Linked DNA regions of Homo sapiens: all the other regions are reported to be linked to region 3. The links are microRNA targets in miRTarBase. Many come from high-throughput screens and were not tested one by one. Region 3 holds a microRNA gene; each other region holds the end of a gene's coding sequence.
Evidence for each region. The annotated mature microRNA hsa-miR-302e reads UAAGUGCUUCCAUGCUU and lies in region 3 at 7,159-7,175, shown strand. An mRNA with a match to its seed (bases 2 to 7 or 8) in the 3' UTR can be bound and repressed. Matches are read on the target gene's strand: a 7mer-m8 pairs with bases 2 to 8, a 7mer-A1 pairs with bases 2 to 7 and ends in A, and an 8mer does both.

Region 1: miRTarBase lists RNF34 as a target of hsa-miR-302e. The part of its 3' UTR that is shown has no 7-base or 8-base seed match.
Region 2: the mRNA of MAP1B is a reported target of hsa-miR-302e. Seed matches in the 3' UTR shown: 7mer-A1 at 1,651-1,657 and 7mer-m8 at 4,747-4,753.

The regions. Positions count from the first base shown.
Region 1 is chr12:121,422,784-121,429,783 of GRCh38, reverse strand. It overlaps RNF34 (ring finger protein 34), which reads right to left. Exons shown (of 6, transcript NM_025126.4): 6 at 5,436-6,398. The coding sequence ends at 6,208. It overlaps KDM2B (lysine demethylase 2B), which reads left to right. Exons shown (of 23, transcript NM_032590.5): 23 at 1-688. Among named protein-coding and RNA genes, the nearest start is that of MIR7107, 18 kb to the left of the region's middle. RefSeq lists an enhancer at 4,195-4,274.
Region 2 is chr5:72,204,565-72,215,350 of GRCh38, forward strand. MAP1B (microtubule associated protein 1B) reads left to right here. Exons shown (of 7, transcript NM_005909.5): 7 at 520-5,001. The coding sequence ends at 675. Among named protein-coding and RNA genes, the nearest start is that of MIR4803, 40 kb to the left of the region's middle.
Region 3 is chr11:7,227,613-7,238,775 of GRCh38, forward strand. It overlaps MIR302E (microRNA 302e), which reads left to right and starts at 7,154; the gene lies at 7,154-7,225.

The sequences.
Region 1 (7,000 bases), not on the chromosome of region 3:
CAAGGTTTGAATGCATACCAGTGTTTTTATTGTTTTGAGATTGCCAATTTTCCTGATTTCCTTAAGGTAGGAGAGAATTTAACGTGTACTTCATCGACACAACCCATCTACAAATGTGCCCAGATCTAACAAAGTAGGCTAAGACCTTCCACTTAAAAGCATGTTTAACTGGAAGTTGAGAGTCTGCTTTGTACCTCAAGAGTTACATGAGCATGTTGTGGATAAATGTAAATTATAGTCAAAGTAAGATACTCTGCCAAGTTTCCTCTGTAGAGAATTCACTTTTCTCAAATTTTAAAATTTCGACTTCAGCCTTTGCACTCAGGAGGTTCTGCTCCAGCATGAGCTCTTGTACTTACATAGATCTAATTTATACAGTGAGTCAAGACGTAGAATAAATGCTCCCACATAGCCTTTCTTTTGCTTTTGCTTCTCTCCTCTGAAGTGTGAGTTGAGTTCTCATTTAGGTTTGTAACATGGCTATTTCCTAGTTGTAAAGTTCTGCATTTATAAGTGCCATTGTTGTAAGGTGGTGTTTCCTAGACCTTCCCTGATGCGATTTTACCTTTGTTGAATTTGTATAAACAATTGTACAAAAAAAACCACTCTTGAACTTTGAGGGTTTCTGTTCTAGGAGTGGACTAGAAGTTTAAGCCCAGAGTCAGTAAACACTGTTTTGAAGTCCAAACAATGTAATTTCTGATTCATCTGATGTACCCTGTGGTGCGTCATTTCTCTTTCTTCAGAAAGCAAGCAAGCTGTTTCTGGCTAGTAAAGGTAACGGGAAAGAGCTATACTCTGACAACGGCCACGCGTAGGAATTAGACACAGACTTCTTTAAGGAGAAGAGCTGCTCATCATCTGTCTGTGTGCCTCTTACCACACAGAATTAATTCCATGGCTACTTGCCATTACCATTGCCTAAAAGTTCGCCAGATTTGGGAGACAGTGGGAGCAACTGCAGGAGGCTGCATCCTGTACAGGTAGCCTTGGGCCATGGTGGCTGTAGGAAACACTTGGTCATGAGGTGGCTTCCCCAAGTGGCAGATGCAGAAACCAGTGAGAAGTAATTTTAGATTACGGAATTTTTTTTAAAGACAGGACCCTGCTGGCGATGTCATATTCACATACAGAAACAACTGCTCTAGTGAATCTGAAGATGGAGAAAGTAACCAACCTCCTTCCTCAGTGATTGATAAGAGCAATGTACGATGTTGCCCCTGTGGAAGAAGCCTTTTCTTGCTGATGGCTGAGTTTTCTATTTGTCCCTTTTATTTTTACTATGGCAAAACAGTTTTAATTAAAATGAGACAAGGCCACGTGGAGTGGATCCAGCACTTTGGGAGGGATCACCTGAGGTCAGGAGTTCAAGACCAGCCTGACCACAATATGGTGAAACCCCATCTCTACTAAAAATACAAAAATTAGCCAGGAGTGGTGGTGCATGCCTGTAGTCCCAGCTACTCAGGAGGCTGAGACAGGAGAATCGCTTGAACCCAGGACACGGAGGTTGCAGTGAGCTGAGATTGCGCCATTATACTCCAGCCTGGCGACCGCGAGACCGCATTTCAAAAAAAAAAGAGAAAGATCTCATCTAGATACATGTCTCCTGTTAATTTAAATCCACAGACCCTTGTTGACTCAATCTAAAGACACTTGAAGCCACTGTACCCCAGAATTTAACTCAGGAATCCACTTCACTCCATGGTTTATAAAAATGTGACTTTCTTTTGTAAGCCTGATTGATTGTTTAAAATGCAGTGTCCTCATGAATGGTAATATTTGTTTTCTTGACAGCCTGAGTTCTCCAAACCTCCAAACATTAATAATATAGCTACCCTGATATCCAGTAAAGTCATCCTCTTCCTTAAGAATTGCTTTAAGGTTAATCATTGTTCTCTGGTGAACGGATCCCGTAGTCACTCATTAGTAGCCAAGACAGATTTGTGGCTGCAACTGGGACTAGTTAAGGGAAGTAGGGCTCAGGGTTAGAAGGCAGTGTTTCTCCTCTAAGGGTTCCTGGAGCACACAGGTCTGCTAGGGAGGGGCTGCCAGGGCTGGGGATCCAAGCCACCACATGGATGTGCAATACAGCAGAGACACAGCAGATCTGTAGTTTCAGGACAGGCCATTGTATAACACAGTGGCCATAAACTCTCCCAAGAGTACTGAACAATCCAGTAAGATTGTACTTCAGTACAAATCCATGGTCTCTGTACAGACCTATTTTATTTTATTTATTTTGAGACAGAGTCTCGCTCTTGTCCAGGCTGGAGTGCAGTGGTATGATCTCAGCTCACTGCAACCTCTGCCTCCCAGGTTCAAGCAATTCTCCTGCCTCAGCCTCCCCAGTAGTTGGGACTACAGGTGCCTGCCACCATGCCCAGTTAACTTTTGTATTTTTAGTAGAGATAGGGTTTCACCCACCATGTTGGCCAGGCTGGTCTCGAACTCCTGACCTCAGGTGATCTGCTGGTCTCAGCCTCCTAAAGTGCTGGGATTACAGGGATGAGCCACCGTCCCCAGCCTCTTTTATTTTTAAAATGAGCCAAAGATGAGGCCAGCCGAGGCTAAATGCTACAAGCAACTACTCTGAGCCTACACGCCATGTCTGATGAAGTAATGAAAGGACCATAAACCCAAGGGAATGTTTGCTGTGTCAAATCACAGCTTAGTAACCTAGAAAAGAGGCTCTGTCCCTTCCTCTAGGGAATCTGATGTTTACAAAGGAAGACACCATGGCACCTCAAATGACATCCTTTCATATTGTGAAGATGGGATAAAGAGACTTCACTGTATTCCACTGCAGACTTATCCATATGACATGACCTATTTAAAAAATTTACTTAAAGCAGCATGGGGCTGGGTGCAGTGGCTCATACCTGTAACCCCAGCACTTTGAGAGGCCGAGGCGGGCGAATCACCCGAGGTCAGGAGTTTGAGACCAGCCTGGCCAACATGGTAAAACCCTGTCTCTATTAAAAATACAAAATTAGCTGGGAGTGTAGTATGCACCTGTGATCCCAGCTACTCAGGAGGAAAAGGCAGAAGAATCACTTGAACCTGGGAAGCGGAGGTTGCGATAAGCCAAGATTGCACCATTGAACTTCAGCCTGGGCAACAGAGCAAGACTCTGTCTAAAAAAAAAAAAAAAAAAAAAAAATTGTTTAAAATTATCCAGGCATGGTGGTATGCATTATATGCCAGCTCCTGGGGAGGCTGAGGCGGGAGGGCTGCTTGAGCCCAGAAGTTAAGACTGTAGTGAGCTATGATCATGCCACTGTACTCTGCCTGGGTGGGCAACAGCAAGACTCTGTCTTTAAAAAAAAAAGGGGGGGGAGGGGGTAGAAAGGCATGCCAGTTTAAAAATTCAAATTCCAGGGGGAAATGCTTGCCCTCTGCCAAACAAGCCAATTTCCAAGTATCAAGCCTGTTACACTAAACATTTCTGTTGTCTGACATTTCTATTATCTGGCTAATAAACCAGGGTTACTTCAAACTACTATCTAAAAAATCCACCAAGCATTTTGTACTCTTTCTATAAAGAAGCCACTAAAACTTAATACACAAATCTAAGAGTAAACATTAAACTGCTTTAAACTAAGACTGTATAAATCTGAATTTTTGAATTTAAGTTTAGACAAAACCAGCACCTACTGCTTAGCTTCTATGGCCTGGATTTAAAGACTTGCCACCACCAAGTTACCAATTTGGAGGAAATGTTAAGATTTCCAGAGTCTCATCAAAAGATTACTTTGGGAGGAAGAGGCGGGTGGATCATGAGGTCAGGAGATTGAGACTATCCTGGCTAACACAGTGAAACCCCGTCTCTACTAAATATACAGAAAAATTAGCCGGGCGTGGTGGCGGGTGCCTGTAGTCCCAGCTACTTGGGAGGCTGAGGCAGGAGAATGGCATGAACCCAGGAGGTGGAATTTGCAGTGAGCTGAGATCACGCCACTGCACTCCGGCCTGGGCAACAGAGCGAGACTCTGTCTCAAAAAAAAAAAAAAAGTTTAGACAAAAAGCACAAGTGCCCACAAAACTCTGGCAACTTATGCTGCTTCTAAAGGGAAACCATGACCTGCTCAAGCCAGTTACTACCAATTGTGGTTGCAGACAAACAAGTGGGAGGCCTTGATTTACATGCTTTGATCTTCAAAAGCAGAAAATTTTTTTCTTTACTATTAGCCACACAAACTTTCTGCCCAAAGCACAGGGGCATCTGCCTCCTGGTGTTCACAGGTATTTTCAGCTCTGTTGATGGACTAATAAATTCTGAGCACCCAAGGCCATATGTGTTACTCACTGCACAGTCAGGAGATAACAGACTCTGAGAAGTGGCCACTCCCAGCTGCACTGAAATGACAGTTGGTCTCAACTCAACCATCCTGAGTCAAGTCAAGTTGGACCTAAAAGAGATTTCACAACATTTTTGCATAATAGCTCAAGTTCCTCTTTTTTTTTTTTTTTTTTTGAGACGGAGTTTCGCTCGTCGCCCAGCCTGGAGTGCAATGGCACGATCTTGGCTCACTGCAACCTCCGCCTTCCAGTTTCAGGCGATTCTCCTGCCTCAGCCTCCTGAGTAGTTGGGATTACAGGGACCCGCCACCATGCCCAGCTAATTTTCGTATTTTTAGTTGAGACAGTTTCACCATGTTGACCAGGCTGGTCTCGAACTCTTGACCTCATGATCCACCCGCCTCAGCCTCCCAAAGTGCTAGGATTACAGGCATGAGCCACCACACCTGGCCCAAGTTTCTCATTTCTTATGTGGTACTGGAAGGGTTAAGAGCAACTCTGGCATCAGAGCTAGGTTCAAATTCTGCATAGCCACTTTTTAACCATGAGGTTTTAGACAAGTCTAACTTCTCAGAGGTTAGAGAAGCAAAGCAATGTTTATTTCAGAAAGTTGCTTTGAGGACTGCAGAGGCAACTACAGCACCTAGCGCAATACCTGGACACAAGAAACAGCACATCAGCAGTTAACCTTACTGATAAGCAAGCAGGAAATGTAAGCACTGTTGCTCATGTGGCATTGTTTTTTTCTTTTTTTTCTTTTTTTTTTTTTTTGAGACAAGGTCTGGCTCTGTTACCCAAGTTGGATTTCAGTGGTGTGATCTTGGCTCACTGTAACCTCCACACCCAAGGCTCAAGCCATCCTCCTACCTCAGCCTCCTGAGTAGCTGGGACTACCACGCCTGGCTAATTTTTTCCAAAGACAGGGTTTCGCCATGTTGTCCAAGCTAGTCTTGAACTTGTGAGCTCAAGCATTCCTCCAGCCTCAACCTCACAAGGTCCTAGGATTACAGGCGTGAGCCACCGCACCCGGCCCCCATGTGACATCTTTGAAGGTGCTCCCACCATCTCTTCTGAAGAGGGGTGCTAGGCCAGGTCACTTGATTTAGGAACTGACCAAGACAATGTAAACAAAAGCTTTTAAAACTAATTTTATTCCTAAAGTTAAAATCAGCTAGCGGGTAGCACTGAAAATACACCTTCACTATACAAAACAATGTAAACTGATTACACATTAATAAGGAATTTAGCACACACACTTCTAATAAAAGAAGCTAGATGCAGCCCTTGCTATAAAAAGCTATACCTGAACAAAAATGGACATGTGGAGTCTAAGGCCCTGGCAGTCGACTAGAGAATGTCAGTTGTTCCCAATTATGTTTAAATGCAGAAACAGCAACAATGTGGAAACTTACATTCATCAAATGTTAGCATTTAAAATATACATGACTAATAAAGTGAACATTCAGAGGAGCCACTGCTCAGCATGTTCCATGTCGGCCACTTGTGGACACTGATCTCATCCAAAGAGGACAGAAGTTTCAAACATCTGAGCAGTTTAAGTTAAAAATAGGATGAAGGGGAAATAAGAGAACAGGATAAGTGTCCTCCCAAGACAGCAGTGGCTGATGCCCACATGGCGCAAACAGGCTGACTTCAATGAGTGTTCACGGGATGTGTGATAAAGCCCAGCTGAGCCCGGGAAGCTCACGTGTCCACAGGCAGACAGGCTCACGGCATGGACCAATGTTTCCACAACTCAGGATGGATCTTTCTGTCCCCACTTAGTAGTCAAAATAATGTTTTAAAATAGCTTCAGCCTTTGAACATAACTTTCCAGTCCCTTCTGTGCATTGAAATGTTGGGGGTCAAGTTTGGGGGTGACTGTCCTGGTGAGGGGAGCCTGTTTCAGGACTTGAACACGTGCACGGCTCGCACCACATACTGCCGGCAGATGGGACACTCACTCATGCGCTTGCCGCACTTGGTGCAGGTAACCATGTGCCCACACTCCAGTAGGACACAGTCGATGACGGCATCCATGCAGATGCGACACAGGCTGTCGTCTTCCTCATCCTGCAGCTGCAGCCGCTCGCCATCTGAAAGGCAACAGAGAGCTAAGGCCTCGGCTTCAGGCATGGCCAGTCAGCCAGCCACCCTCCCAGTCCGAAGCTGAGCAGCCACCTGCTGAATGACCCCTGCAGGCCCAATGCCACCCCAGTGTTGTACAAGAAATAATCCCAACTTCTCTGCACTTTGGTTCTCTCCACTAGAAATGGCAATGATAAAAGCTATACCTCAGGGTTTTGTAAAGAATAAAATGCTTGACGTACCCAACAAATGTTAGCTATGTATTTCTATTTTATATCTTTGTCTAATTCAAGACATCTGTGATAGGGATATATTACTTCTGTAACTAGAAAAAGAAACCCTCAGCTGGTCTTCTGTAGATGGGCTTTGGAGTCAGGATGCTATTGGAATTTAACTCAGTTGCCCCAGCTTTGTAGCCCTGGGAACACCACAGTCTCTGGAGCCTCATCTCAGTAGGAAAAGGAGCCTTAGTTCCCCCTTAGGAAAGTTAGGAATAATTGTGCATCCTTCCCTCCCTAGCCTTAGAATCATCTCAAGCCATCTGTGTTCCTGGCCCTGCTGAAGTCTAACTTGAAAGAGATGGGCCGTCCTGGCTCTTGGCCCACCTTTA
Region 2 (10,786 bases), not on the chromosome of region 3:
GCTAGATGGAATTTATACTATTCAGGACATTACTTACCCACCCCATACCTCCATCCCCAACCACACACATAAAGTAAAGGTGCAGATCTTTGTTCTCAGGACAAAATGTTAGTTACTCACAATGAGTGGGCTTTTGAGGGCTTTGAAGTGCGCGATAAAATCCTTGGATTAAATATGCAATATCTTTTATGCAAAACTTACCAGTTGTGTTAAAGGAAATACAAAAAATTGTACCCTAACGGAAGCACTTCTCTTAACAGTAAAGAACTGAGAAACTGATTAATTGCTTTTTGGTTCCAGCCTTCAGTTTCCCTTAGAAACAATAGCTTTTCTTTGCAGCTTTATTCTGGTTCCTGGAAAATATACATTGAAAAATCCTTTGCATTTCTTGAGGAAAATAGAAAAGTTTTCTCTCATTTCCCTTCTTCTTCCAGTGGTCTAATACCTTGCTATTCAATTTTTTTCATATGGTTTCTGTTTCTGCCCTTAAATAGCTATTTTTTTTTTCTCTCCCTGCAGGTGACACTGATCCCAACTCATGACTCAGAAGTGATGAGGGAATGGTACCAGGAGACCCATGAGAAACAGCAAGATCTCAACATCATGGTTTTAGCAAGCAGCAGCACAGTGGTTATGCAAGATGAATCCTTCCCTGCATGCAAGATTGAACTGTAAAAACCAAGGCCAGCCACACCACAGGATCTGAACTTTGTTTCCAGAAATTCTTCAATTTGAAATCACCTTTTCTAAAAAGTCAATTCATCTAGTTAAGTCGCTGAACAATTACCTGCCAAATGCTATACTGTGTCATGGTGATGCAAGTCACTAAATTTCTCAGTTTTTGCTGATTGCTAAGGGAAATAACAGTATTTCCACAATAGGGTTCAAATTCCTGCAAAATTACCTACCCCAGTTCATCTCTGCTGAACATTTGGAAACCATGCACTAGCCAACCCAACTGACTTCTGCTAGGTAGAGGCATTTGTCTTAGAGAGAGAGAGAGCGCGGGAGAGAGTGAGAGAGAGTGAGAGCACAAAGATAACGCAGGAGAGAGAGAGAGAAAGAATGAGAAAGAAAAGGAATGCAAGAGAAGGAGATGTAATGACAGAGAGTTCTGGTGAGATACCCAGAGAGAAAAAGAGAGAGCAGGGTGGGGTAAGGAGGAGAAAATAAACCAACAATTAGGTCTGCATTTTCTCAGGCAGTAGGCATTCTTTAGTCTACATAGGCAAAGTTTTCCATTTTTGTCAGTCTGAGTCATCAAAAAGAGTCTTAATTTTCTAAAACAAGTTGGCTAGAAGAAAGTAAAAAGAACAACACTTGTTATGAGGGCATGTGATATTTTCACATCTTAATTAAGCTCCTTCAGTTTGAAGGCTGCACACTGACATAATGTAGTGAGTGTAGACTGGCCATGCAAGTGGTTTGGGCCCCATTCAGAACTCTCAGACTCTAAACACACAAGTAGATTGATCTAAGGCATGCTCCCAGCATTTGTCCACCCACTTAGTCCACTCTGAGTCGATTAACCTGCATGCAGCAACACCCAAGTCCACCCCAATTAACTGAAGCAAATACCAAAGCAGTTGGGAGTACATATGGTAGACAATTTGCCTTAGGAAGTGACTTGAATGTACAAAGATACTTGATGCACTTATTTTTTAATGTGAGACAGCAAGTTTATAAAACATCCATATAGGATTATAGATACTTAAAGGAACACGTGGGTGAGCGTGTGTGGGGGTACTAGAAGCTGATCTGATTGGTCCAACAGTTTGATGCTGAGTCATGCGTGTTGAATCCCACTTCAGTGCACCTGTGGCCTCTCAGTCAAACAAGTTGTGCCTTTCACAGCTTCTTTACTACTGCAAGTTCAAGACTGAAATGGCTTCTATGATCAGAACTGGGAAAACAGTGAATCTTATGGTGGAAGAGGTTCTCAGCAAGTGTACAGTATTTACCTTCCTTTGTCTTACATTGGCTTTTTAAATTTTCCATTAATTTCAACATAATTATGGGAACAAGTGTACAGAAGAATTTTTTTTTTAAGATATGTGAGAACTTTTCATAGATGAACTTTTTAACAAATGTTTTCATTTACAGGAAATTGCAAAGAAAATTCTCAAGTGATAGTCTTTTTTTTTAAGTGTTTCGTAAGACAAAAATTGAATAATGTTTTTTGAAGTTCTGGCAAGATTGAAGTCTGATATTGCAGTAATGATATTTATTAAAAACCCATAACTACCAGGAATAATGATACCTCCCACCCCTTGATTCCCATAACATAAAAGTGCTACTTGAGAGTGGGGGAGAATGGCATGGTAGGCTACTTTTCAGGGCCTTGACAAGTACATCACCCAGTGGTATCCTACATACTTCTTTCAAGATCTTCAACCATGAGGTAAAAGAGCCAAGTTCAAAGAACCCTAGCACAAATTTGCTTTGGGATTTTCTTTTCTGGAAAAAAAAAATAAAAGAAATAGTACATTGAAAACAAATGAATTCTCAACTCCTACGGTTCATGTAGAGTTTAGAGAAAATTTCCATCATTGTCATCATTGAACTGTGAACCTGGGAAGCCAGATCATGATTAACACTGACATCAAGTTTCAAGTTGCAGATCAATGCACCCAGTGTTCAGATGAGGCAAACTTCTCCGTGACAACTGTGCTGTGCTCTGTCACATTACATTTCCTGCAGACTCTAAGATCTACGGAGTAGAGAACAATGACCTCATTTTATTTTCTATGTTAGTTATTTATTTCAAAATTAACATTTTAGTTGATTTTTGTCTGATAAGTCTATGTTTTGCACTGCTAACTATGATGAGGGTTTAAAAAAATGCTTCTTCAGGGTCCTTTCACTGAGGACCTATGCAGTCTACTTAATGCTGTGAATTACATTTTTCAAATGTTTAATTTTTTAAAGAAAATTAATATTCTATTTTTGTTAGGCTTCTCTAGAAATGCAGCTTTTATTTATTACCCCATTTCTTTCAAGTCCTTGGAAAATAACATATTAAGGGTACAAGAAATTAACACATGATGGAAAAGTCATTGTGACGCCAATGAATTTCATTGAGTATAAACTCATCTACTTCAAATTTATTTTATAACACAACCTAAGATACTCAAGATAATTATTTAATGGTTAGCTCTTAAGTTGAATTGGTCTACATAATGCGTGGGAAGAAAACCAGATTTTTAGCCTTCTTGCCAAATCCAGACCTCTGGTTGATTTTTCTTTGACAGAAGATGCAAGTTATTTTCCAATTTCACAATTAAATGTATTTAACCTGAACATTATTTTGCTTTAAAAACTATAAACATTGTAGGAGAATTATAGCCAGTCTTCAGTTATAACCACTCCACCCTCCTCACTTTCTCTCTCTCTCTCTCTTTTTTTTTTTTTTTTTTTTTGCTATGGGATTTAATGGGAAAAATATGTAAAAACTGTCACTAGTCAGCTGGCTCTTTTTCCTATGAAATCTATCAGTACCTTTCTCCATCCGTTGTTCTCAATATGACCACAGAGCCTGAGTATACCAAGAAAACCAATATTCGCATTACAGGTTGCTCCTGTCCTTCCAGACACCTTTCCTGCCTGTGTGACTAACCTAATTTTGCTAGTTCCATAAATACACGATTAGTTTAGTAACAGCCATCACAATGTACCATGTACATTCATGGTGAGAGCTAAAGATCGACACAGACTTCTAGGAGCTTTGTTCATACTGATTACTTAATCCAATTGTATAGATTGAATATTTGAGTGGAAGGAATTTACACTCTGTTTAAATGATGGGATTCTATCGAGATAGCACTCATGATCATGACCTTTTTGGTAGTATTCTTAAACAAAATTCTACAGAGACTAAATGTTAGCGATGATCCTCCATTTTCAATTTTAACCAATTCTGTCCCCTTTCTCAAAACCCTGAGCCCTGTGCATGCTTTCTCAGTCTTGTGGTGGGACTGGATACAATGACTAACTTCCCCTCCTCCCCTCTTTAAACACCATTTTCCATGGAGTTCAAAAAAATTTTTTTTCTTAACGTTACATATCATAGTGAATGGTTTCCCCAGTGTATATGAATGTTTTAAGTGTCTCCAATAGCTTATGCAGTCTAGGAGCTTTCCAATACTCATTTAATTAAGATTTAATCATTTGCTAATGGAAATCTTACCACCTTTCATTTTCCCTCTGTTACCAAATTTCAGCTCTTAGGAGCTGCTCTACAATTCTGAATTTGCTTTTCTTGCCTCTCTTTAGTCACCTGTCACAGGAGGTTCCTGCTCAGTAATGATATTGTGAGTTAGGATAATAACTTTTTTTTTTTGTGCTTCAGATTTAGAAGAAAAGATCCTGTTTCCATTTGAAAGGAACTGTAAGCTTTTATCTTTTAACCAACTGAACAATACACCAAAAGCAGCCTAGGGATGAGCATTTCTTTGAAAGCAATTAGGTTATTCACCTGGTATTAAAACTATTTACTGTTAAAAAATCTGTGACTTCATGAAGTTGATTTTTAAAGGCAGCATCAAAAACTGAAAAGGAAGGGAAAAAATAGGCAGCTTCTCTGCACTTGTTTGGAGCTCCCCAAAACAGGAGCCATGGAGAAGTGGCATCAAGACCGGGCTGCCCTTTCGAGAACACCCTGTGGCAGTTCAGAGACACGCTTTTCCTACACTGCATGCAGCCCCTCTTTCCAGCACTGGAAAGAAGTGGTCTTGAGCCCAGCTGAGAAGCACTTCACACTCCTCTCTCTTGTTCTGAATGGTGTTTGTGTCAGTCTGCAGCTGTGTATGGTATTATGTCTTATAATCCTGCATCACTTCTATCCTATCCAGTCATATCTAATGTAGAAAATTAGTTTCCAGTGAAAGTAATATGTAGTGCTTTTATGATATTTGTGTGCAATATCCCCTCTTCCATTGAGGATATTTGATGTAAAGGAAAAAAAAAAACTCAGTTCCACAATAAAATACAAAAGTGGCAAAAGTTCATGTGTGTGCTGTGCTGTCTTTTGCTTTGTGTTCCTGAGTTGGGCTTTGCCACTCACGCAGAATGCTGGGCAGTCAGGGCATGACGGCAGGGGGTGACTACGTTCTTTTCAAGATGGGCTCCCTGGCTTTTGGCAAACTGCCGAAAGCATCTTGCTAATGCTTGCAACTGCTACCTCGTTAACTTTTATAGCCAAGCTCTAGAGGATGTGAGCGTGTAAGGACAGAAACTGGGAGGTGAAGGGAAGGAACAATTAAAATTATTGCTTAAAAAAAAGAAAAAAAAAAGGATAGCTGGGTGCAGTGCTACATGCCTGTGATCCCAGTACTTTGGGAGGCCAAGGTGGGAGAATCATTTGAGCCCGGAAGTTCAAGGCTGTAGTGAACCATGATTGTGCCACTGCACTCCAACCTGGGCAACAGAGAGAGACTCTGTCTCTAAAAAAAAAAAAAAAAAAAAAGAAAGAAAAGATAGACCAGACCAGAACCTGTCATATTCAGCAATTGTGCTCAGTACCTATCTTTTTCTTAGTTCCTTGCTCACTGTTACAGAATATCCTCTATCTAACATAATATGTTGTGGATTTGACTCACACCCAGGAACTAGCAGTTGTTGGGAAAAAGTGATTATATATGTAGCAAAGAATACCTAACAAGAGGAGGATTTCCTCCCTGTCATTCAAATGATTATTACACATTTACCCTGTACCTGGCAGTAGGTTATATTACAAGATATAACCTAACTGCTGCCCTAACTGATTGGGGGAAGACAGACCAGCAGAGGCAATGATACCACATCGTGATGGGGGCTCCTAAAATTCAAGAGCGAGCTTAGGTGACCATAGGAAAAGCACCGCAAATGATGTCTCGGCTGAGCTCTGGAGTGTGTGTGTGTGTGTGTGTGTGTGTGTGTGTGTGTGTGTGTGTGCATTGGTTGGACCAAAAGTAAATTCCAGGCAGAGACAAGAGCTCACACAGGGTCTCAGCAGAGAGCAGGATCAGCATATGTTAAGGAGCACAGACTGCTCACAATGGCAGCATGTAAATGGGGGAGGCCCTGGCACTTCAGTTTCCCACCATGTGGCCACAAAAAACATGCCCATAAGGTTCTTAATAGAGACCTCCAAGACTGGGCCCTGCCTGTCTGCAGAGATGGTCCTTTAGCCTCAAAAGACCCCAGCAGCCTGTCCTGAGTTATTATGATATCCCTCTGTGTGTCATATCCACTCCTTTTGATCTTAACATTTCCCCTCCAAACCATGGGGCTACATTGAATGGTCCTATCAGAAATCACTGCTTGCTAAGAGGGATTCTGAAATCCCTCCAGAAATTAAAGGGTTAAGCATGTGAGCACTCAGGGTGGGAAATCATCACTTACAGATTTTAATTTCATCTATCAGACTCAAATTAAATAGTAAATAAGTTGTTTTCTATTCCACTGCCAAATTGTTCAGTTCCAGGAAGCCTTCCTTCTGGCCTGAAGCCAGGGTGGCCAACTATCTTGGTTTGCTCAGGACTGCCCTGATTTCAGCACTGAAAGTCCTGTGTCCCAGAAAACCCCTCAGTCCCTGGGAACCAGTGAGGGCTAGTCACCCTACCTGAACCCTGCCCTGCTGTTTACATCCCCTTCTCCCCCCATCTAGGCACAATGGAGGGGGAAAAGTTGGCGGCAGCTTTCCTTCAGTTTCTTTTTTCCTATCTTCTGAGAAAATCAACAAAGGTCTGTTGAGGTCCTGTGATCATATTTTCTCTCTCTTCTTAATTGTACCGCTCATTCTGGATGATTTTCTATATCCCTACAATGCTTTTTTTAACACACTCCTGACTCATGAATTCTTGGTCCCTTGCATAATTCCAGAACTATTTCCTCTTTGATCTTGTATTGTATGCCTTGGAAATTCACCGGAGCCATATATGCAGTTTTGGTCACACCTAGTTCGTTTAATATGAGCAGTTCTTCTGGATACTTCTCCAGGGGTTACTGGCAATGTTTTCACAGATGGTGGAGCAGGGCTTCTGAGGTCTGCTTGATTCACAGGGAGATCTCGCCGTACACCAACAGACACAGCTCTATTTCATGGCTCAGATTGTCCCCACTAAAACCAGAAATGCATGCTGCTTTAATGCAGTCTCAGGAATTTAAATGCCATGTGTAAACTGATGATTTTTATAGTTATATCTGCAGCCTGTACATCATCCCTTACCTCCAAATTCATATATCCAGTGCCCATTAAAATCTCCATGTGGATATCCAATAGGAGTCTTTAAAATACCCTAAACCAAATGTAACATGTCCCCAAACAAACCCCTGATCTCCATTTGCAAACTGCTTCTCTCCTAGGCTTTTCTACCTCAGTAAATGGCAAATACATATTCTTGTTGTTCAGGCCAAAAATTTTGGCCCATCAGCAAATCAACTGGCCGGCAAGTACTGCTGGCTTGACCTTCAAAATATATCAGTCTGATACCTTCTCCTCACATTCACGGTTACTACCCTTGTCCAAGTCAATCATTTCTCTCCTGGTTTATTGCAGGAGCATCCTAATTGACCTTCCGGTTTCCTATCTTTGCCCTCCTAGCTTATTCTCCATGTTGCAGCTACAGTAGAGTAATCCTCTAAAAATGTTAAGTCAGATCATGCCACCCATGCTCAAAGCTCTTGAGTAAGTTCTCATCTTAGAGTAAAAGCCAATGTCTTTACTGATGGGCTAAGAAGGCTTACACAATTCATTCCTCCTCTACCCCTTCTCTCCGACTTCATTTCCCACTTCTTTCCACCTTACACATTCTGCTCCAGCCATACTGGCCTCCTTGCTATTCCTCAGGCATTCAGCCTTTCATCTCAAGGCCTTTATGCTATTTCCTTTGCTCAACATGCATTTTCTCCAGGTGATTCCACGGTTTTCAATCTCACCCATGTGGGTTTTTGTTCAAATGTCATTTTCTCAGGAAGGCCTTCCCTAACCACCTTATCTTAAGTTGCAATCTCCACCATTTACCTAGCACTCTCTTTTTCTCTACCTTCCTGGTCTCCATATGACTATTATTTTTGTGATCAAGGTTGGGGCAAAGCCCAGTGTGGTGGCTCACACCTGTAATCCCAGCACTTTGGGAGGCCAAGGCGGGTGGATCACTTGAGGTCAGGAGTTTGAGACCAGCCTCACCAACGTGGTGAAACCTCGTCTCTAGTGAAAATACAAAAATTAACCAGGCGTGGTGGTGCGTACCTGTAATCCCAGCCACTCAGGAGGCTGAGGCAGGAGAATCCAGCCTGGGTAACAGAGTGAGACTCTGTCTCAAAAAAAAAAAAAAAAAAAAAAAAGATGGGAACTAATGAGCCAGAGCCTGGGAAACACTCATACCCAGCAGTGGCCCAGCATGCTATCAATGGAGGACATTTGTAATGGGCATTAATGGTCTATTCTACCTACTATCATATGCATATTCACTTTGGAGGGTGTTTTAAGGATTAGAAGTTTGAACTCTGCAGAGATGAAGCATCATGGGAAATAAAAGCCAAAAAACCAAACAATTCTACCACTGAGGGCATCAGAGGATATAATACCCCTTTTATACATCTTCATCATAGTCCTTGATCCAGCATTTAAAATCCATGATGAAATTTATTTTCAGGTGCTTTTTACAAGAATAAACTTCTTGTTTTCTGAATATGTCCAGCTCAGATCTGGACTCTCTTTTGTACATAATAATCACACAGCTCAAGCAATGATTTTGTTTTAAACAAAGATCCTAGTGGTTACTGCCACAACCTCAGCAGCGTTGCCACCATCGTTTGTTTGGATTTCCCTGTTACCACACAGGTAATAACATCCTCAAAGCAGTATGCAGTATCAGCAAAAAGGCCAAATCAATGGGGAATAAGAGGTTATTTTCAAGCTAAGAGGCTGTTATTTAGAATAAAAGGAAATTTTGCTTTGTTGAAAAGCGCTCCTTTCCAACCATTTCCTAAAGCAAAATTTTAAAAATTGATCATTTTCAGAATTCGAAAAGCTCATGAAAATACAACCACACCACATTTTCTGCTTTGATGACTCACTAAAGTCAAAGCTCTCTGAGACCTTTTTCCACTTCATCTCTTTCTCACCTATGCGCAGGGTGCCAGCAGAATCACCTTCCACTGACTCACGCAAGGTCACTTCACAGCATCTACATTTTGGAACTCAAAAGTCCTACTCCAGTTACAACCAGACAGCAAAACCATACAAATCACCATTTACTCTTTTCCCTAATGGATCTTACTTAGGAAGAATAATGGCCTACTCTGCATCATTGCATATTTTATATTTATATTCAGAGTTAGACAAGAAACAGCTACTATTATTCTTCTAGCCTGAAATATCATTTGTGAATGAGCTATTTGCTACAAATATCATTGTTGGGTCTCATCTACATTCCCTGAAAAAGTCCTGTGAATGCTCCATCTGTAAACCCTAGGCCAGGGTTTCTAACGTCGGCACTACTAACATCTTGGACCAGATAGCTCCTTGTTGTGAGGGACTGTCCTGTGCACTGTAAGATGTTTAGCAGCATCCTTGACCTCTACGAACGAGATGCTAATAGCAGCCCCTCAAAATACCTTGACATTATCAAATGTCAGATGCTAATAGCAGCCTAATCAAAAATACATTGGCATTACCAAACGTCCCCTGGAAACAAAATCACTCTTGGTTGAGAACCACTGCCCTGGGCTTACTCCTGGTCATCTGCAGACAGTTCTCCACCAGTGGATGGTGTTTCTCTAACGACACCTTTCAACTGTGTGTTGACAGGTGCGAATGTGCCAGCCTCACTAGAATCTAAGTTCTTCCTGGTCTCTGCCCAAGGGTGTTTCCTGGTCATGGGAGTGTGATGGCGCTGCACTAGGAGTAGGCTATAGTGCTCCCAACCCATGAGGGAATAGACTGAATGGGCAAATACTTAGCTGCTTCCTTGCCTTTCAGAGGAACTGCTGAGGTGTGCTCTTCAGAGTCTCTCAGAGGGTCCACAGCAAGAATGAGCTGGTTTCCACAATCCACTCAATTATGCACCCTTTGTTGGCTCTCCTTTCTACCCTGTCTCAATTTCTCCTTCCCTCACCTGCTTTAGTAAGATCACCTCCAACTAATGCACCGGCACTCAATTTCTGTCTCCTGTCTTGCTTTAGGGGGAACCTAAACTGAGACAGTGATCTTCCGAGTTTGGGACTGCACTTTAGGAGTCAGATATGGGTTTGACCCTGGCTCTCCAATTCACAGAGGGAAACCCTGGCATTTAATCACTTCTCTAAGTCTTTGTTATCTTGTATATAGAAAGAGCTGTAATAATGGGCATATTCTTGTGGGTTAAATAAGATCATGCATACAAAAATTTAATATGGCACTTGGCTATAGATGGTCAATAAACATTGGCTTTTATTATTGGTCTATAAATGATAAGATTTGTGTTACAGCTTCATCACTTCCTAACTCCCTGCTTTGAGGCAGGTGTGATATACATATGTAGAAGAGAATTCTGATATGATACACCATGCTCACCCCCCTATTTTTTCCCCACAAACCTTCCTCCTGGTGTCAATTTTGGCTTACACTACACTTCGTAGAAATCCAAAGAGGCTTTCTTTGGCATTAAACTACCTCAGCTTAGGACATACGGCTTCTAGCATCTCAGAATTTCTGCTGGGAATTATACCTCAGTTGGAGGACTTTCCTTTTAACCTAATAAAAAATAATTCATTCAATAAATGTTTATAAGCCCCCTCCTCATGGTAATGCCTGTTCTGTGTG
Region 3 (11,163 bases):
CGCCACTGCACTCCAGCCTGGGCGACAGCGAGACTCCGTCTAAAAAAAAAAAAAAGAAAAAGAAAAAAAGAAACAATTCATTCTTTTCCAGGCCTCAGCACAGATTTCTGCTAACTTGAGCTCCTGGGCTGCTAACACATCAGAGAGAAAGGAAGGTGTCATTTAGTAATGTGGCTGCTACTGATGACACAATCATCTTTCATGAAAAAAGTTAGCTCCAGGGGAGGGCTGCCTATTATAGCAAAAAGATGGGAAGTTAAGAGAATTGGTTGCTAGGTTTTCTTTGTGGGGAAGCAAGCTAAATTTTTTTGCTGAGTATGACAAAAATGCAAGCTATTTATTCTGATTGAGATAATATTAGAAAAGAAGAGGTTGAAAACCAGAAATACAAATCTTGAGAGGTACAAGGACTGTAAAGTCACAAGGGAAAGGCACCTGATTGTTTTGCTGACCCTTTATATACTGGGGACCTAACACAACGCCTGGTACTGGTAGATGCTTGTTATATTTGTTGGATGACTACATAAACAAATATCTCCTGTATTCTACTAGTATCCCCTTAGCTTTCTTCAACAATTCTGTAATTATTATAAAAATACAATATTATTTTCAATTTATTATTTTCAAATTATTTCAATAGTATTTTCAAAATTGCAAAAAAGAGAATAAATGAAAAGCCATCCATAATTCATTCATTAAGATAAAATTAGGTTTTAAGTATTTTCCTCTAGTTATTTTTCTGTATACACATGCATTGGTATTTGTAGGTGTGTGTGCATAGATACACAGAAATATGATTATGTAACATAAATAATTTTTCATTTACATTTTGAATATTTTTGAGGTTATTAAATAATTTATTTGAGAATATGATTTATAATTGTGGTAAAAATACAATATTATTTATCTGCATTTAATCTATCAACATTTAACTTTATTATTATTAATCTATCAACATTTAACTATTCTTCCCTATTGTTAGACAATGAAACTTTTCAAATAGCTGCTATTTTATTTGATTTTTTAATTCTAGAGACAAAGTCTTGCTCTGTCGCCCAGGCTGGAGTGCAGTGGCACGTCTGTAGCTCACTGCAGACTTGAATGCCTGGCATCAAGTGATCCTCCTGCCTCAGCCTCCTGAGTAGCTGGGACTACAGGCGCAAGCCACAATAGCTGCTATTTTAAGAACATAAGAATTATTTAAGTCAAAGGATATTAATATATAACTACTTCCTTTGGCATATATTTCCAAAATTATTTTCCAGACAAGATTGTATCTAGTACTAGTATAATCCTCACTGAGTATTATAGCTTTTCTTTTTTTTATATTTAAATTCAGGAAACATTTTAATTGTTATTCTAACCCACATGTTTCATGACTAAAAAGGTCAAACTTTTTTTTCTGTATTTTTTGGAAAAGCTTCTTATGCTTCCTCTTTGGTGAATTATCCATCCATGTCCTTTATTCACTATTTTCTACTGAGATAGTACTGTGTCTCTTTATAATTTGAAAGCAATTTTTAAAAATATTTAAAGAAGATTAGCCCTTTGTCTACAAATAATTCCCCAGTTTGTCAAATATTTAGAATTTATTTTCATAATAACTCTTGAGAAACAGGTTTTAGATTTTTAAGAAGTTAAAGCTACTGGTTTTGTTTTGTTTATTATTTTTGCTTTGTGATTTCTTCCATATATTCATCCTTAGAAACAATTTCTCCTTCCTGGAGCCTAAAAAATGCCCATTTATAGTTTATTCTAGTTTCATTACTAGAATAGTGTACTTTGATTTAGTTTGATTTTGTCTTAATTTTAAGCATAGCACTGAGTCATTTTGATTTCTCTTTGTTTTTCCCCAAGTACATAATCAATTGTTCCAGCATTATTTATTGAATACTCTTCTTTTTACATACTGATTTATGATGGAAATTTAACTGTATATTAAATTCTTGCATGTATGAAAGTCAGTTTCTAAATGTTTATATTGATCAATTCTTGCCCAAGATACATACCATCTTGATAGCTGAAAGTTTATTGTATGTTTTGCTATCTTGTAAGACAAATCTCTCTTTACTGCCCTTTCCAACTTACTTTATATTATCTTTTTGAAACTTTTTCACTATTCAAAACTATATATTTTTTAAAATGAGCTATGTTTTCACTTTGTCAAGTAAGAATAATCTTAATAAAATCTTTGAGTCACATTAAACCTTTAAATTATTTCAGAGGAATTAAATAATTTCTTTTATAATATTTAGCATTCCCATTCATAAACATGGTATATCTCTACATTTATGATGCTATTATATCTCCCCATATGTTTTCTAATTATTTTCATATAGATGACACACAGTTCTCTAAGTTGTTTTTCACAGAGTTATTTATAAATTTGCCTAATTATTTATGATGGCATTAATAAAATAATTTCACCATCATAATTTTGACTGAATTATTGATTTCACCAACAACTATTAATATTTTATATTTGTTCTTGCATCTGAACATTTTCCTATCTTCTTTTATTAGCTCTAATAATTTTTTAAAAAAATATCTTGGGACTTCTAGATCAGTAAATTAATGATTTGTAAAATATTTTTCTGCTTACTTTAATAGCTTTAGCTCTTTTATTGCATTGCACATTTACAAGGTAATGTTGAATAATGAAGACATTAAGGATAATTTTTTTGTCTCTGAATTTTAAGTGAAGTTTTTCTGATATTTCAATTTTCAGAATGTTGCCTCTACATTTTGATATTCATCCTAATGTTAAGGAAATTTCCTTTCTTGCTTATTTTTTCAGACTTTTCCCAGGAATGGATATTAAATTTTATGAGATGATTTTAGAGCATCTGCCGGATGATTATGTTGTTTTTTTCTTTGACCTATTACTGATGGACAATATTAATAAATGTGCTACTAATAAGTGAATATTATATTCCAAGAATAAAATCTGCACAATATAGTCTAAACATTATCTTGTAATATACTACTGTATGATTTTCATTGGTTTAGTAAAGACTTTTATATCTATCTCTAAAATGTCATTCTGGGAATTATAACTTGGACATCAAGTTCCTTACACTCTGGTTGCCCTTTATTGGTTATCCTTCTTTTTTCTTTTTAATGGGCCAATCAAGCACACTATGTAACTAAGATGAAAGCTCTTTAAGAGCACAGGTCTTTGTTTTATTTGCTGATTTATTTACTAAGATCCTAGAAGTATGCCTGATACATTATTCGTATTCAATAAATACTTTTTGATTGGTTAATGAATTCTCTCTTATATTGATATTTATGTTCTTTAATAATTTTATACTCTGAATTATATATTTTTTATTCTTTGTGTCTTTATCTGGTTAGCTGAAATAAGACATAGGAGTGCATATACAAAAATTTTCTTCCATCTGAATATGAGGGTGGTATACCGGCTGAACCATTGAATATCTGAGAATTTATTTCCGTTGCCATCAGGTGTGGAAAAACAGCTGAAGACAAAATTCTTCCCATAAGCTTTTCCCATCAAAACTGTGATATATTGTTCCATTATTTTCTAGTACTTGGCATTGCTGAAGAGTATTTTGAAGCTGGCCTTTGTTTCTTTGTTCATGATCTTTCTTTTTCTTTAATGCCAGGATGCTTTATTCTTAAATTTTGACGACAATGACAAAAAATAATACATTTTATTGTTTAAAATATACAGATATGTGTACTATATAAAGCAGAAATCTGTCTCACTACATAGTTCTTCTATGACCCCGCCTATAGGGCTTCTTCTAAATAAACTCACTTCTCAGATGGAATTACTCTAACAGTTGGTTGTGTCTCGCTTCTAAGTTTGTTTCCTTATATTTCTATAAATAGTGGAGTTTCTTCTTTCTAAATAAGATCATACTCTTATAACTGAGTGCCTGAAAAAAGAGAGCCTTAAAAATGTTTAGAAAGAGAAGCTTCCAAATGTGCCTTTGTCTAGATGGACAAAGAAATTCACATTGAAGCACATTCTCTTAACCAACACTTGAATGGTCCTACTTGATTATGTAAATATTAGGTGAGTAGGCACCCATCACTCTGAAGAAAAGGCATGGCAGGGACTGTGTGTCTTTGCCAAGGTTGCCTTTTCTCATTGTCCCTAAGTATGTAGGCATATCTGGTCTTTGAGTAGAAAGTGGAAAAGGTTTACACTGAAGCCATGCTCAGAAAACAGACGGATGGTCCCAGGCAGTGAGAAATTTCTAATTGTGGGGAAGGACAAGTACATTTCAAGGAATAGTGATATCTTCTATTAAATTTGAGGGTGTTTCCTTTATTGACTATAATTACTTCCTATCATCTCCAAGCCTTCGGGGGAAATCTGTTAACTAAAATGACCTAGTGTTATTTGTGAAAGTCCCACAAAGGAAGAGGAAAAGAGTCCACAGCAAGAGGTAACATAGAACCAGAAGCAAAGAAAACCTATCAGGAGCAGGTTACAGGGGTGAAGCAGGATTCAGGAGAAACTCATAGGAACGTAAGCCCTCCCTGGAAATCTAAAGTACTACACCAGTGGTAGAGGTAGGTGTGCTCCACACAGTGTGCGGTGTGGCTGCTTGAACCATCTTATTTGCATATTATGCAAAGGATAAGACTTGAAAGAGGGGGAGTTTGGGGAGTACTAGATTATAAATGCTTGAATATCAATAATCCCCACAGTTGGGATGACTGTTCTAACTGGATGTGGTGGGCAGCCTCTAAGATGGCACCCAAAGAGCCCCACTTCCAGATATCCATGCCTTCGTGTAAACACTTCCCCTTGGTTATGGGCTAGATTTAATGATTCAATTTTAGCAAATAGAATACAGCAGAGGTGATGGGATGTCACTTCCAAGATTAGATTACAAAAATACTATGGATGCCATCTCTCTTGACATCTGGGGCATTCTCTTACTTGCTCGGACATAGGAAAGCCAGGTGCCATGTTGCGAGCTTCCCAGTGTAGAGGCCCACTTGACTTGGAACTGGAAAAGGTCTCCAATGGCCTGCTAGAGAAGGTCTCCATCCAATAGCCTGCTAGAGAAGCTCTCCAGCCAATGGCCCAATTCAACAGCCTGTGAGGAATGGAAACATCCAAGCAATCACATAAATGAGCTTGGAAGGGAAATTCTCCCCTAGACAAGCCTTCAGATGAGACCACAGCCCTGGCTTATAGCTCATCTACAACTTCCTAAGAAACTTTGAACCAAAAGTACCCAGCTAAGCCACACTTGGATTCCTGATCTACAGACACTGTGAGAAAATAAATATTTGTTATTTTAAGTTGATAAGTTTTGGGATAATTTCTTATGCAACAGTAGATAATTGATTCAATGGGAAAAATAATCAAGTATATGTTGCAGATAATTGACAACTTTGGGCAAAGACTATGTTTGGGATTCTAAATGGAATAAAACATTTAATAGAGTCAGAGTGTAAGAAATACAATGATATATGTTCAAGGATGCATCACAGTATAAAGCAACATGCCACAGGATACTATAGCAAAACATTCATTTTCATGATTTCACTTATTTCTTAAGGTACATATGCAATATGTCTTAGAAGAGACAACACAGAAGCTCAGCAGAGCCTCACTAGAAAACTCTGACTTGCCTTCCCTCACTTCCCAATGACCTAACATGAAAACGCAAAAAGTTACATAGGAATATTGGTTAAAAAGTCTGGTAGATTTCTTTTTTTTTTTTTTTTTTTTTTAACTCATTTTTATCAAAATTTGTGCAGTTGTAAAAATTTTTTTTTTTTTATTATACTCTAAGTTTTAGGGTACATGTGCACATTGTGCAGGTTAGTTACATATGTATACATGTGCCATGCTGGTGCGCTGCACCCACTAACGTGTCATCTAACATTAGGTATATCTCCCAATGCTATCCCTCCCCCGACCCCACCACAGTCCCCAGAGTGTGATATTCCCCTTCCTGTGTCCATGTGATCTCATTGTTCAATTCCCACCTATGCGTGAGAATATGCGGTGTTTGGTTTTTTGTTCTTGCGATAGTTTACTGAGAGTGATGGTTTCCAATTTCATCCATGTCCCTACAAAGGACATGAACTCATCATTTTTTATGGCTGCATAGTATTCCATGGTGTATATGTGCCACATTTTCTTAATCCAGTCTATCATTGTTGGACATTTGGGTTGGTTCCAAGTCTTTGCTATTGTGAATAGTGCCGCAATAAACATACGTGTGCATGTGTCTTTATAGCAGCATGATTTATAGTCCTTTGGGTATATACCCAGTAATGGGATGGCTGGGTCAAATGGTATTTCTAGTTCTAGATCCCTGAGGAATCGCCACACTGACTTCCACAATGGTTGAACTAGTTTACAGTCCCACCAACAGTGTAAAAGTGTTCCTATTTCTCCACATCCTCTCCAGCACCTGTTGTTTCCTGACTTTTTAATGATTGCCATTCTAACTGGTGTGAGATGATATCTCATAGTGGTTTTGATTTGCATTTCTCTGATGGCCAGTGATGATGAGCATTTCTTCATGTGTTTTTTGGCTGCATAAATGTCTTCTTTGTCACCACCAGGCCTGCCCTAAAAGAGCTCCTGAAGGTAGATTTCAAGTAAAATCACTAACAAAGGATGCTACGCGGTCCAGGGCTTTCACCTACCAGAGGATACAGAGGAGTCACTCTCCCCTCCAACCACACAAAACAGACTACAGAGGTCTTTTTATGTATGCTTTTAAGGAATTCCATTCCTGGGATTCAACATAGCTGAGGCATATATGGACAGATGGTGGAGCATTGTATCCAGAGATATCAAGATGAGAGGATAAAAGAAGAGAAATCGTTGAAGTTTCCTTGCTCTTATTAGTACATTTAAAAAAATCATAGTCCATGGGCTGTTACAACAAGTTCTCAATGTTTTCCATTTTTATATTTGCCTTGTTATAATCCTTAAAATTAATTAATCTTAAAATACATAATTGCCAAAGTTTTGTTCTATTTAAAACTGTGATTTTATTTAATATTGACATTACAAGTCCATTTCTGGAATCTGCCTGCCACAGAGGTTTGGTCCATCAGATAGTGTGGTTTCACAGTTAATAGAGTCTCTAGGCAGACTGCCTGGGTTTGAAACCTGGCTCTCCTAATTATTGGCTGTTTCACCTTGGGTAAGTGCTTCCATGCTTCAGTTTCCTTACTGGTAAGATGGATGTAGTAATAGCACCTACCTTATAGAATTATTTTGAGGAATCAATGAGTTATTATTTGTAAAGTGCTTAGAACAGCAACAGCTCCACAAATGGTCTCCTTCCCACTAATTCTGTAATAAAACAGCAAGTGCTGGGGGAAGGTGGGGGTGATGGGGGGCAAGAAAAGGAACCTGAAGCTTCTCCAGTGCATAGAAGTTTCTTTTGCCTCAGGAGTCATCCTGACCCAGAAACGGTGTTAGTGGTGTAACATTGGGCTACTTTGTGTTCGCTGGAAATCCCAGACTAATATTAATATTCATGGGATAGTCTCTGGAAGCCTAGACTTGGACCCACTTATACCTTAGTGCTTAAATTGTACAGACACTCAGACAGGTATGAATTAAACTTGGGTGGGGGGCAGCTTATTCGGCCATCAATTTTTATTTTATAGTTCTATGTGTGTGTGTGTTTTGAAAAACAAATGGTTCATTTTCTTGCTCCTGTGGGAGCAAAGCAAGTCATAAACTTAAAGCAAGTGTCTGCAAAAAACTTTCCAGGCACCAGTCTTTCTGACAGACAGAACATCATCTATTCAGTAGAAAAAGTCAAACTTGCTTGCTATCTTTTAATACTCAAAAACAAAAACAAAAACAAAACCCAACAACACTGAGACTGGTAGCTTTTCCATGGTTATCTCCATCTAAACCTTCATGAATAGATTCCTTCCTCCAGGAATAAGGAATGAAGACCTAGGACTGACAAGCAAGAAACATGAGCTCCATCCATGTTTGTTCTCTGGCGTAAACTCTGTAACTTGGAGGAAGGCTTTTGGTTTCTGAGGTTGGGCTGGGAATTCTGCAGGGCATAGACAACTTGCTCTCAATGGAGAAAACACACAAGCACACACTCAGAGAGACTCAGACAACTTGCATGCATACACACACAAAATTCTCACATGTAGACACACCTTCAAGATACACATTTACATTAATGTTCACAGGTCTAAGGTGTTAAGACTCAGGGAGGATCATGGAGGGGTGAGGGGCTTAGATCAGTTCAGAAGAGGAAACTTTTCAGATAGATTTCTGTCAAAGTAAAATTGAGGTGCAGAGCCCTCTTCGAGCCCTTCATCAAGATTCACAAAAATAAGGCATTAGGCTAGAAATAGCTCTCTGCAGGCATTTATATATACCTTTAAACTCCATTGTTTGAAGCCTATCAATTTGGAGTGCTGAATTCTACTAGATTCTAAGATATTAGAGTAAGATAGAAAGATGAATTTTAGTCAACCAATCAATGTGCACTCAATGGATGCCTACTACAGTCACAGGCAGTGCCCTCTGGGCCCTGGGATAGAGAGATGATTGAGATATTATCCCTACCCGATGATAGTCTAGTAGGGAAGATGAGACTAATACATATGAAACCAGCTAATCTAACTTCAACGTTAGACTATTAGAGCCCAAAAAGTGTCCTGCCTTGTCAAACATGCTATTTTGCCATTGAAATACTGCTATCCAGACATAGTAAGTAAATTTCTTATGGCCACATGATCAAATAATAGACCAGTTCTTCTAGAGAGAATTACTCTCTCCATCCCTTTGCATTGTTTTATAATTTTATAAAAAACTTTTACATGGCTCTGTGCTTTAACTAGGCATCTGCCTGTCTGTCCTTCCTTCAGGGATGTGATGCCCCACAGGTAAGAACCTGACCTTATACATTTAAGGAGCGCACAGTGACTGATAAGGCCATATTTAGCCAGGAGGTGCTCAACTCATCAGCCTTAAGTGATCGGAAAGGATCAAAGACAACAGTCCAGGGAATTCCTCTTGGCCAAGGTCGCCATTCATTACACCAGATAGCACAGGTAGTAAAGACCTAAATCTTGGATACAAATTCGAGGTAAGATATTTTAAACTTGGCGTAAAATTATAGACCTGTTTCTAAGCCCTTCTGTCTTCTTCTCCATTTTAAACTCAGTTGCTTTATAATTTTACATAAAAGGGTAATGCATTTTCATTTCAGCCAGCAGGAAAAGGTTAGGCTCCTCAGGTGCTTTTGAATCTTCATGTTTGCAGACAAAATCATTGAAAGGTTTTGATATATTTCTCCTAAGGGTTTTTCTTGAAATTACACCAGGTCACTCAATCATCAGACAAGCATTTTTAAAAACAAAACAAAACAAAACTGCTCTTTGTCAAATACTGGGCAAGTTGTTGTCTACAAACTTGCTTGGCTGAATTACTGAGCAACTACTTTATGCCCAGAGAAAAGAAAAGAGCAGCATGGTTCTTACATGTTTGCTAAGCTCTTGACCCATGCTCTCATGAGTACCCTATCCCATCTGGATCTGAGTGTTGCCCTTCACTATCCACCTTCTTTCATTTAACAGTTATTCACTGGACACCTCCTATGTGTCAGGCACTGTCTTAGATGCTGGATTCTTGGTGATGAACATGGCAGACAAGGTCCCTAGCCTCAGGGAGTGAACATACTAGTTGTCAGAGGGAATGGGGGATGGGAGTAAGCAAAAACAAAAACAAAAACAAATAAACAAAAAAAACCAATAAGCAAACAGATACTCAGAACCCTGAACTGTTTCTGACATATAGCAGGTGTTCAATAAATATTTGTGATTTAATGGAATGAGCAAGATAGTTTCTGATAGTGATAAGGGATATGAAGGATATTGATGTGAAATAGAGCATTTAGACAGGGTCAACATGGAAGGCTCTGTGAAAAGGTGATGTATAGGCCAATATGCAAAGGAAAGGAAGGAGCCTGCAGAAAAGGTGTCCCTAAAGTTGAGGAAGAAGCAAGTGAAACATCAGGGAGTTAGTAACAAACTGATTGCATTTGAGGACAGAGAGAGAACAATGTGACTGAGACAAACTGAGCAAGAGGGAGAGTAGCACAAACTGATGTCAGAAAGGTAGAGGGAGCTCAGCTATGCTGGCACTATGGATCAAACAAAGGAGTTTGGGCTTAATTTCCAGTGTTATTGGAAGCATTTGGGGTTGAAGCAGTAAGTCAATGTGATTAAACTCATGAATTGAAAGATCGCCATGGCTGCTCTGAGGGGAAAGAATTGGTAGGAGGCAATATTGGAAGAAGGAAGTGCGTCAGTTAGGATGTTTTAGCACATCAACAGGTTATAGGTGTGAAAGATATTGTTCCCCTCTGCCCTTGGTGTAACCAGGAGAGAATGAGTTTGGCCAAAGCTGTGGGGCGGTTCTGGCCATAGGAGGATTCATCCTTTAACCAGAGAATGCTGAAAAATTAGCACCATCTTCCGTGTCTGTCACAATGTAAAAAATATTGGAAAGCCCTGCTTCAATACATATTTTTCATGCTTTCTGGCCATCGGGCTTCTTTAATACACTCTTTCTATGTTTGGAGAAATTTCCCACTTGAAAACCAGCCTCCAAGATAACTGCTAGTGATCCCCACGTCCTAGCATTTGCTCCCTTGAGTGGTTCCCTCCCACACAGCACCAGGGTTAGTGTGTGTAACCAATAGAACACAGCAGAAGTGATGGCATATCACTTCTAAGATTAGGTTATAAAAGACAGTGGCTTATGTCTTGAGCTTCCTCTCTTGCTTTTTTCTTTTTTTCTCTCTCTCATCACTCACTCTGGAATAGTCAGCTATTTCTTAAGAATACCCCAGTATCCTTGTGGAGAGGGCTGCATGATGAGAAACTGAGACTTCCAGCCAGTAGCCAAGCAGTAGGCATTATTGAAAGCAGCCCCAGTCAAGACTTCAGATGATGCAGCTCTGGCCAGCAAGTTGACTAGAATCTCATGGCAGACCCTGAACCAGAACCACCCACCTAAACTGCTTCTGGATTTCTGACACTTAGATATTGTGAAATGATAAATGTGTGCTGTTTTAAGTTGTTCATTGTGGGGGTAATTTGTTACATAATAATAGATGATGAGTGCATCCCCTTTGTGAACCCTGCTACCACACTCAGCCTCTC